2 separate regions of the Homo sapiens genome follow, and region 2 is reported to be linked to region 1. The links are microRNA targets in miRTarBase. Many come from high-throughput screens and were not tested one by one. Region 1 holds a microRNA gene; the other region holds the end of a gene's coding sequence.

Evidence for each region. The annotated mature microRNA hsa-miR-513b-3p reads AAAUGUCACCUUUUUGAGAGGA and lies in region 1 at 2,090-2,111, shown strand. An mRNA with a match to its seed (bases 2 to 7 or 8) in the 3' UTR can be bound and repressed. Matches are read on the target gene's strand: a 7mer-m8 pairs with bases 2 to 8, a 7mer-A1 pairs with bases 2 to 7 and ends in A, and an 8mer does both.
Region 2: miRTarBase lists TOM1L2 as a target of hsa-miR-513b-3p. Seed matches in the 3' UTR shown: 7mer-m8 at 1,181-1,187.

What each region holds. Positions count from the first base shown.
Region 1 is chrX:147,195,990-147,201,167 of GRCh38, reverse strand. It overlaps MIR513B (microRNA 513b), which reads left to right and starts at 2,041; the gene lies at 2,041-2,124. All of the region lies in intron 1 of LOC105373347 (periphilin-1), which reads right to left.
Region 2 is chr17:17,843,300-17,848,299 of GRCh38, reverse strand. TOM1L2 (target of myb1 like 2 membrane trafficking protein) reads left to right here. Exons shown (of 15, transcript NM_001082968.2): 15 at 517-4,789. The coding sequence ends at 665. Among named protein-coding and RNA genes, the nearest start is that of SREBF1, 8.8 kb to the right of the region's middle. RefSeq lists an enhancer at 3,513-4,033.

The sequences.
Region 1 (5,178 bases):
CCACTACAGACCATGTTTGCCTGGGTATCACCAGTGGAGGCTGCAGAATAGCAAATATTGCAGAACAGCAAATATTGCTGCCTGATCCTTCCTCTGGAAGCTTCGTCCCAGAGAGGCAGCCACCTGTATGAGGTGTCTGTTGGCCCCTACTGGGAGGTGTCTCCCAGTTAGGCTACATGGGGGGTCAGGGACCCACTTGAGGAGGCAATCTGTCCTTTCTCAGAGCTCAAACGCCATGCTGGGAGAACCACTGCTCTCTTCAGAGCTGTCAGACAGGGATGTTTAAGTCTGCAGAAGTTGTCTGCTGCCTTTCGTTCAGCTATGCCCAGTCCACAGAGGTGGAGTTTAGAGGCAGTAGGCCTTGTTGATCTGCTGTGGGCTCCACCCAGTTTGAGCTTCCTGGCTGCTTTGTTTACCTACTCAAGCCTCAGCAATGGCGGATGCGCCTCCCCAAGCCAGGCTGCCGCCTGCCTCACAGATCGATCTCAGATTGCTGTGCTAGCAGTGAGCAAGGCTCCGTGGGCATGGGACCCGCTGAGCCAGACACAGGAGAGAATCACCTTGTCTGCCGGTTGCTAAGACCTTGGGAAAATCATAGTATTTAGGCGGAAGTGTCCTTTTTTCCAGGTAGTCTGTCACGGCTTCCCTTCGCTAGTAAAGGGAAATCCCCCAAACCCTTGTGTTTCCCGGGTAAGGCGACACCCCACCCTGCTTCAGCTCACCCTCCATTGGCTGCAGCCACTGTCCAACCAGTCCCAATGAGATGAACCAGGTACCTCAGTTGGAAATGCAGAAATCACCCGTCTTCTGCATTGATCACACTGGGAGCTGCAGACTGGAGCTGTTCCTATTCAGCCAAAAAGTAGTATAATATTCTTTGAAGATAGACTGTGATGAATTAAATATGAACTTTGTAAACCCTAGAGCAACCACTATATTTTTTAAAGTGACCTAACTAATACGCCAAGAGTAGAGAAAATATAACTGAATGCTAAAAATACTAAATCCACCATCAGGCAGAAAAGAGGAAAATTTGGAATAAGAAAAGGATGAAACATAGAAAACAATCAGAAAGCCAGTAGATTTAAATGCATGTATGTAAATAATTGTATTAATATAAATGATATAAATGCTTCTATTAAGACAGAGATTGTCAATTTATATAAAAATAAGAAACAACTATATACTTTCTAAAACAAAGCCATTTTAAATATGAAGACCTACGTGAAAGTTGGGTAAAAGTAAAAGGATGGAAAATATATTAATGCAAAGAATCTTAGAACTAAAAATCTTACAGCTATTACTATTTAATAACACACACACACACACACACACACACACAGAGCGAGTGAGCAGGCACTCAAATAAATGAACTATAAAGAACCATGGAGCTAAGAGAAATAAAATAGCATTTCCTGTCTTCCAGCCCATTATCTGTCTTGTGTGTATCTTGTATTAATTTCTATGGGTTCTTCCTGCTCCATAGCCTGAAGAAGAAATGAAATTTCTACTCTCTCCAACCTGTTACCCTCTGACTCTTCTCCACTTCTTTGCATCCAGGTTGTTGTATTCTGTGGTTTTTCTGATGGACTTTAGGTGTGTGCAGCACAGCTGGAGTTTAGGACAACAGAAAGCTTTGGTGAGTGGTTGGTCCTTTCTACTTAACCAGTAATTTTATGTTTTTTTTTTTTTTTTTTTTTCTATTACATTTTGTTTTTGTTTTGAGACAGGGTCTCACTCTGTAACCCAGGCTTGAGTATAGTGGCCTGATCTCCTCTCACTGAAACCTGACTCCCAGGGTCAAGGTGTACTCCTGCCTCAGCTCCTGGGTGGCTGGGATTATAACAAAATAAAACAAAAATCTGCATGTTAAAATCTCACTCAGGGCAGGATGAAAGGGGAGCACTGGGGGCTAGGATTTGCATAATTCCTTGGCATAAATCTTGGTGGCCATGCTAATGTATACACCTATATAGGGACTTGAATAAAAATGGCATGAATAGGGAGCATTTGGTCTGGGATGCCACATTCAGCCATTCAGTGTACAGTGCCTTTCACAAGGAGGTGTCATTTATGTGAACTAAAATATAAATGTCACCTTTTTGAGAGGAGTAATGTACAGCATGCACTGCATATGTGGTGTCCCTAGGGATGGGGCTGTAGCTGCGAGCATGGTGATGCCTGTTTTGGATCCTGTGCACCCACTCCTCAGTGCTGGGCTACTTCAAGGAACTTTTTGTGCCTTCTAGACGACTAGACATAGGAACTGTGGACTCCTGAGAAAACGCATGCACTCAAGTTCTTTAAGAATTTAACTATTTTTGCCAAATGAGGCTTGGCTCAAATAAGAAATACATTGTATAGAGGCCACAGCCATTCTTCGTCAGCTGGAAGGTTGTACTCCAGATTCCTAAATTCTCTAAACTTTTCTCTCTTGTCAACTAGTCATCATTTGCAAGGCTTCTCCTTTAGAGCTCCCAAAAGACTCTCCTGCCTCTCAGGTCCCTTCATTGTTGATCCACAGTGTCCATTTGTCTCTCAAAGACTAAAATGTTTTTCATTGACTTTTAAATTACCTTTCAAAGCTATATGTCACCAGTTTACAATGGGTTAAGCATAGTCCATCCAAGAATATTTCATTCTTTTTCATTATCTTTTTCCCCATTTTTTAAGAATACACTTGAAGAATGAAAGGGTGTGACAGAACTGATACTCAGGAGATGTCTCCCAGGCTTCTCTCTCCATTTTCTTCTGGTGACACTTCTTAACTTTTAACCCAATGGAGAGAGAGAGAGAGGGAAATAAATACACACACACACACACACACACACAGAGAGAGAGAGAGAAAAGGAGGGAGAGGGAGAGAGAGAGACAAGCGCCAGACTGTGTGATGCCTTCTGCAGCATGAAACCAGTATGCATGTTTGGGAAGTAGGTTATAAATAAGCTACTTATATTGTGGAAATGTGTAAAAAATGTTTTAGAAATAGTAAGTGATTAATACAATTTTGATTCCAACTGAAATAGAGGCTACAGCATATACACTGAAAGGGAAAAACTGTTAAAAAATTACTATATGGTTACAGGGAGGATTTTAGTTTATGTTTTTTTTTTTAGATTCAGAATGGATGAATATGTGTAAGACCATTAGTAACTGAAAGTAAAAAAAAAAATCTGTTGATGTATCTTTTCCATAATGAAACAATTGCACTAATAGAATACAAAGAATCTTTGTATGTGTGTGTGGGTCGGGGGGAACATTCTGAACAGTAAAAAAATTCTGTCAGTTTGAAATACTGTATGTACGTAGAATTTTCCAAAGTGATAACTCCTCTTAGTATATAGTTTCTAAAACTGTATTATAGTGAAAGCATGTTACTTATATAACTTTAAGTGATATCCTAAAATGAAAGTAAGAAAATTTAGTTGTTATCGTATCTCTTTTATGATTTACTCAAAAAGAATAGTATATTCACTGGTATTTATGTTTTCTTTCAGAGAAATTCTGTTTTGTATTATTCATCCATGTTTCTACCAATTTATTAAGGTTTAACTGACATAAAAGTTGTATATATTTAAGGTATACACCATGATGTTTTGATATATGTGTACATTAGGAAATGATTAAATCAAGCTAATTGAAAAATAAAATAATATGAACATAAAATATTTAGGTGAAATTCTAAGAAAAAAATTACAAGATCTCTGTGGTAGGCAGAATAACAGCCCCCTCAAAACAATGTTTACAGAGTAACCCCTGAACTTGTAAACAACACATTTTATTGCAGAAGAAAATTTGTGCATGTGATTAAATTAAATATTTTGAGATTGGGATTATCCTAGATTATCTAGGTGAGCCCAACATTATCACAAGGGTCCTTATAAGTAGGAGAAAGGCGGTTAGAATAAGAGAAACATTGGAAAAGGCTATAGTATTGACTAGAGGTGGAGGTAAAGTCCATGAGCCAAAGAACGGAGAAAGCAAGTAGCATCTTCTTCTAAAGACAATCAAGTAGATTCTCCTCTAGAGCCAACAGAAGGAACAAAGCCCTGCCAATGCCTTCATTTTAGCCAAGAGAAACCTAATTTAGATTTCTGACCTTTAGACCCTAATATAATAAATTTGTGTTGTTGGAAACAACTAAATTTGTGGCAATTTGATTCAGTATCAATAGAAAACCAAACACATCTGTATGCTAAAAGTGTAAATACACTAGGAAATCAAATAATTCCTAATTAAGTGGAGAGGAGTATCATATTTATGGATCGAAGGATTCAAATCTATAGACTTATAGAGTTCTATTGATCTCTAGAGGTAATGCAATTCCAACCAATGTCGCAGAAAAATATTTGTAGACATTACCATGATGATTCTAAAACTGATATAAAAGGCAAATAAACTAGAATATCCAAAAGAGTCTGAAAGAGAATCACAAAGTTGGAGAATTTACACTTGTAATTTCCAGATTTACTGTCTAACTAGATTAGCCAATATAGTGTGGTACTGAAGAAAGGATGGACAAATAGAAGGACCAGAAATATACATATATGTCACCAATTCATTTAGACTAAGCTGTAAAGTCAGTCTAATGAAGAAATGATAGTATTTAAACAAGATACTGGAAAATGTGATATATATATATATATATATGAAAAATATGAACCTCGATCCATATTTCAAACCATATACGGAAAATAACACAATTTTAGGCCAAAATGTCCAAGTATAAAATTTTATGAATAAAAGGCAGAATATATATATATTTTTTTATTTATATAGATATTTATTTTTAATCTTCTTTACCTTTCAGTAACTTTTTTCCCCCGATAATATACCATAGGCATCCTATCAATTATTATATATGATATCAAAATATAAAAGTAAAATTAAAAATAAGTTGATAAAATAGACTTTGAAAAAATTAAAATTTGTCTTCAAATCAGACCACTGAGATAATAAAAAGGCAATCTACAGAATACTAAAAATATATGTAATTTAATAATGTGATAAATAACATATATCCAGCATAAATAACTACATATAATTTAACACTCCTGTGTATACCAAGAATTTTACTAGTTACTTTTTAAAAAGTATCTGTGTTTTTCAATAAAATGTCAGTTCTATGAGGCTGTTTTGATCTGTGTTGTAGTCCTAGCACATGAAAAAAACCTGGTT
Region 2 (5,000 bases), not on the chromosome of region 1:
AGGTCTGCCAGACCCTGTGGCCAGACCGCTCCGCAGGGAGGGAAACTTCAGAGGACCCTGCTCCCTAGCTCTCAGTGCCCATAGAAATGGGGCACTCCCCCCTCCCCACTGCATTCCTCAGCATCTCCTCAGTCCTCCATTGGTGGGCAAGGGTGGGGTAGGTGGGATGGTTCCTGCCTGTTTAATCAGAAGCTGGCCCCTCCAGCTTACCCTGCCCCACCCCCAGTGCTGATCTGGAAAATGGACAAAACCCAGTGCTGATCTGGAAAATGGTCAGCGGTAGGGTGAGCACTCTGGGCTGTGTTTTCCAGAGCCTTTCCCTCCAGGGCAGGAGGACTGGGCACAGCCAGGAGCCTCCCCCCACACTGCAGCTCACGAACCCCTCCCTACCCACCTGCTCCTAGGTGGGCTTCATGCCTGCCCTAGAGGAGGAAACGGGCTGGGGAGTGGAAGGGTGCGCTTCCTCTGGTGGCCTGCCCTCACCAACCCTGACCCTTGCCTTGGTTTGTATTGCAGAGTTTGATAAATTCCTTGAAGAAAGAGCCAAAGCTGCTGAAATGGTTCCCGACCTCCCCTCGCCCCCCATGGAGGCTCCTGCCCCAGCCTCAAACCCTTCTGGCCGGAAGAAGCCAGAGCGGTCAGAGGATGCCCTCTTCGCCCTGTGAGCAGCTCTGTGGTTTGCCTCCCCAGATGGCGGGTCCCCGCTCGCACCCCGTGGACACCGGGCACTGGCCACTCCTACATCCCCAGCTCCACACGGCCTGCACACCTGTGTTTCCATGGAAATGCCACCGTGTCTGCTCCCAGGCCTCCCACTAGTCAGGACCAGCTTCAGCCACTTCTTTTCTCTGAGTGGTGGGACAACTGCAGCCAGAGACTCTCTCCCCTCCCACCATGGGCCCCTCTGCCCATGTTTCCTCCCAGGAAGAGCGGGCAGAGTGGCCCAGCCCCAGGCAGTGCTTCCTGAGCAGACCACCCGGACTGTCTTTCCTCCACCCGCCCATGGAGAAAGAGCACGCCCGGCCCCGCCCTGTGCTCACCTCTGCCTGGCTCAGCGACCTTCTCAGGCATTCTGCCCTCCTGGGCCCCTCTCTCCCTGAAGGGGCTTTGTGGCATCTCTGGAAGAGCAGGGTGTGCTGCACTCATGGGCCTGGTCTCACTCCTTGGACTTGTCACCTTGTGACATTTGGCTTATCAGCATTTGAGAAGGCTCTGCTGGGTCTCCATGGTGGGGGTCTCTCACCTTCTTGACCCTCTCTCCATCATTCAGCTGCCAGCCCAGGCTTCACACCCAAGCTGGCTCAGCAGCCGAGCCTGGCACCGAGGGTCCCTGCAGGCTCCCTGGGCAGGGAGAGGGCCAAGGACAATTGGGAGGGCAGCAGGCAGCCCGCAGATGGTGGCCATGTGGCACGCTGCTGAGACGACACTACCAATAAACCAAACTGCCACGCACACACTGCAGGCTCACACCCGCACACCTGGTCCTGGCTTGTGGAGGGACTTGCACTGGAGGTATTGCTCTGGCTTGCCTGGGGAAGTGTCACAGATGTGCACATGGGCCACACTCAGTGCTGTGGCCTGGCCTGCCGTAGCCTCACACATCTGCCTCAAGAGCCAGCAGCAAACAGCTTTGTGGCATCCTTGGAGGTTCCCAGTGACTGAGAGGCCTGGGCAGCACTAAGGCCCCTGCTCTGCTCCCTGGCATAGGCCTTGGCCTCCTTGCACAGACTCTCCTGACAGTCTGGCCTCCTCCCACCTCAGAGGTCCTCTGGCCACCAATTTATACTCTCTCCCCAAGCTGATCCTGAAGGCAGGCAGAGCAGCTAGGGGCTGGTAACATGTATTCCCATCCCGTGTCCTCACTGGTGTGTCTCCTGGCCATGGGCAAGGGACTCGGGTCATCCCAGGCCCTGGTCCAGCCAGACACCTGGCCCCACACCTCCCACCAGGCTGCTGTTGCTCAGAAGGAGAATACTGCAGCTGTATGCATCCCCGTGTGTCTTGGGCCCAGCTCGCTGGGTCAGTCTGCTCCTGTCCCCTCCAGCATGCACTGCCTAGGTCAGCACAGGTTCCTGATCCATGGTGTAGTTAGCCCTTCCCACCTGGCAGGACGGCCCAGACCACCAGCCAAGCAGGGAAAGGGGGCTGGGCTTGACGGGAGAAGAGACCAGCGACATGGTCGTTGGGGAGCATTCAGGATGGCGACTTCAGCTGGGGGTCATGCTGAGCACCAACAGGAACTATTCCAGTGAAGAGCAAGTGCTGCCCGACCCAGGACCCTGTGCCAGGCTAGCAGCCCTCCAGCTCCCTCCAGAGAGGAAACCTCTGTCTGGCTGAGGGTGGGACTAGCTGGGATGTCTCACTCCAGTTGCTCAGGTTCACCCAGGAAGCTCCTCCGTGGAGTGGCCAGCCTGATTCTAGCCCTGTCCTCTCTGGCAGCACATGCCACACCTGCCTGGGCCTTCTGCTCCCTGATGCTTGATGAGCCCCTGCCTCCTCAATGTTTCTCAAAGACAGACCCCCCTGAGGCCAGCTTGAATGTGAAGACTGCTGAAGTTAGCTGGCTTCACTTGAGCTGCAGAAAAGGTGGCTGGGATGGCCCAGGTGCACCCAGAGGCCCCAGCCCTTTGGCTGCCTTTGGGTTGTGACTTGGGTTGTCTCTGAGGCCCTGCCAGAGCTGGGCCTGCGGGTGGTGGGCGGTCCGACCTCGGGCAGTCAGTGCTCCGCAGCCTCAGCACTGCATCCCAGACCCAGTGTCCTCAGAGGGAAGAGCCAGCCTCCCTGCCTCATGGAACCAGGAGTCCCAAAAAGTCAGGAGCCTGGAGGCTCTGAAAGGAGCAGGGATTCCATAGTGCGTGAAGCTGAAATAGGCGCCCTCCTGGGGAGCCCCCAGCAAAACTGTTTTTCATACCCACTCCCAGAACTGCCCCGCTCCAGCTCCAGCGCCAGCGCCAGCTGGTTGCCAGGCATCATTGGAGAGGCCTGGCTGCCCCAGGGGCAGCAGGGAGTGGTGGACCTGTATGGGCTGGCAGGAGGCCATTGGCCATGCTGACAAGTGTCACCTGCCTTCCTAGCCTGGAGCCACCCCTCAGGTGGCCTGCTTGCACCTCCTATCCGGAGGTAGCCTGCCCCACCTGTAGGCAGAGGGGGCTCTTGCTTGAGGCCTGCACAGGAAGCAAGTATAGCCCCGGTGCCCCAGAGTGGGTTCCACTTAGCCCTGGCGAGATGGCCTGTCCTGAGATCTCTGCTCCCAGACCCCACCATCTGGGGAGCACAGTCCTTAGGCTGCCTGGTCCAGGAAGGGGGTGCGGCTCTGTCAGGAAACCTGGACTCTCAAGGCCCACCAGCCTCTCCGTGAGTGTTAGAAATCACAGATACAGTATATACTTAATTACACTAAATTATTGCTGGGATTCCTTATAAGCACTAATTATACCTGATTATAGGTTAAAATATTTATTTTGTCAAAATATTTTCTTGGGAATGTGTTTAACCCTTTCTGCGTTCATTGTTGCTGAGATGTGAAAACTAACCATTCCCTCCTGCCTACCTTTTTGGCCACTGGGCGGCAGAGAATGGCGCTATGTGCAGTTGGGCCCCTGGCACCATGGGCCTTTGGCCTGCCTGCTGCAGAGTAGCCCTGCCTGGGCAGTCTCCAGGCACTGAGCAGGCCATCTGTGGCCAGGCTGAGAGAATGACTGGCTCGCTTACCAGCGTGCATGGGACAAGGAGCTTTGGAGCCTCAAGGGGTTGTTGCTGGCCTGGGCTAGAGGGAAAGGTGACCATCCGTCTGTCCTCCTGTCTTTCTATTAGCGCCTCCATGTGAGTGATGGTGCCTTGGTTCACTAGCCTTCCCCCACCACCCCACCATGCCACCTGGTGGTCTTGGGGCCTGTGCTGTCACTCCAGCCCCTGGGGAGGAGAGGACCCAGCCCGGAGAGTTGGGGCAAGGGCTCCACATGGCCCAAGGGCAACAGATGCTCGCAGGGCAGCTGCTGCCGATGCTCACGCTCCTGCCCCCCTCCTTCCCGCTGCCACACCCCACCCTGGGCCCCCGCAGACACGCATCTCTAACTCAGTTGGGCCCAGCCTTCTGGATGGCTTGGGGTAGGCCATGGGCCCACCTGGGGCCAGGCCAGCCCCTGGGGCAGCTCTGGAAGAGCAGTGTGGAGGAGCACTTGCTTGCAGCCTGGCTTCAGCCTCTGGCACTGCTGGAGTGGTCCCTGGGAGCTTCTGCACTGTCGGCTTTGGGGACGTCTCACCCACTTGGGTTACAGTAGGCCTTCCCCACCCAGAGAGAAGTGTTTCCACCCCAGAGACATTGTCTGTCAGCCCCTGAAGTGCTCGCCTCCCCCAGTGCCCGTCACCAGCCCTTCCTATCTGTGGGGTCCAAGTCAGGCTTCCCCTGCGGCCACCAGCCATAGGGAGCAGCCATCAGCCCCCGAGTCAGAACTGCTTCTGTCTGTCCATACCTCCAGGCTCTCCCGGAGAGGGGGACGGATATTTATTTCCTAAAGTTTGCACTTAATTGTGAGGATTCTCAGGATTGTTGGGGGCTACTGAAAAGAGGAATGTGTTGAATGTCGCGTTTGCTGTCCACTCGTCCTAGAAGTTTAGTGTTTTTGTCACTGTCATGTGTTTCTGTGGGCAGAGCTGGTTCTGGAGGGTGGGTCAGTGCACCCGAGGCTCAGAGCATCCATCCACCCCACTGGCCCTCCTTCCAGATACCCTCTCTCTAATTGGGTTCTTGCATGTAAAATACTCCACAATAAATAAATAATTGAACAAATTATGCCTGTGTGGTCTGTTGAATTGGCTACGACTGTCCAAAGGGCTTGCCAGTTTTGACCACCTGCTTTATTTAAGCAGGGGTGGCCATGGGGACCCTCAGTCCACCCTTCCCCAGTGGCCAGGCTGCCTGAGCAGCCCCTTACCTGGCCAGGAAAATTCCTGTGCGTGGCCCAGGTTGTGACATCGGTGGGAGTGGCTGTAAGCCTGCT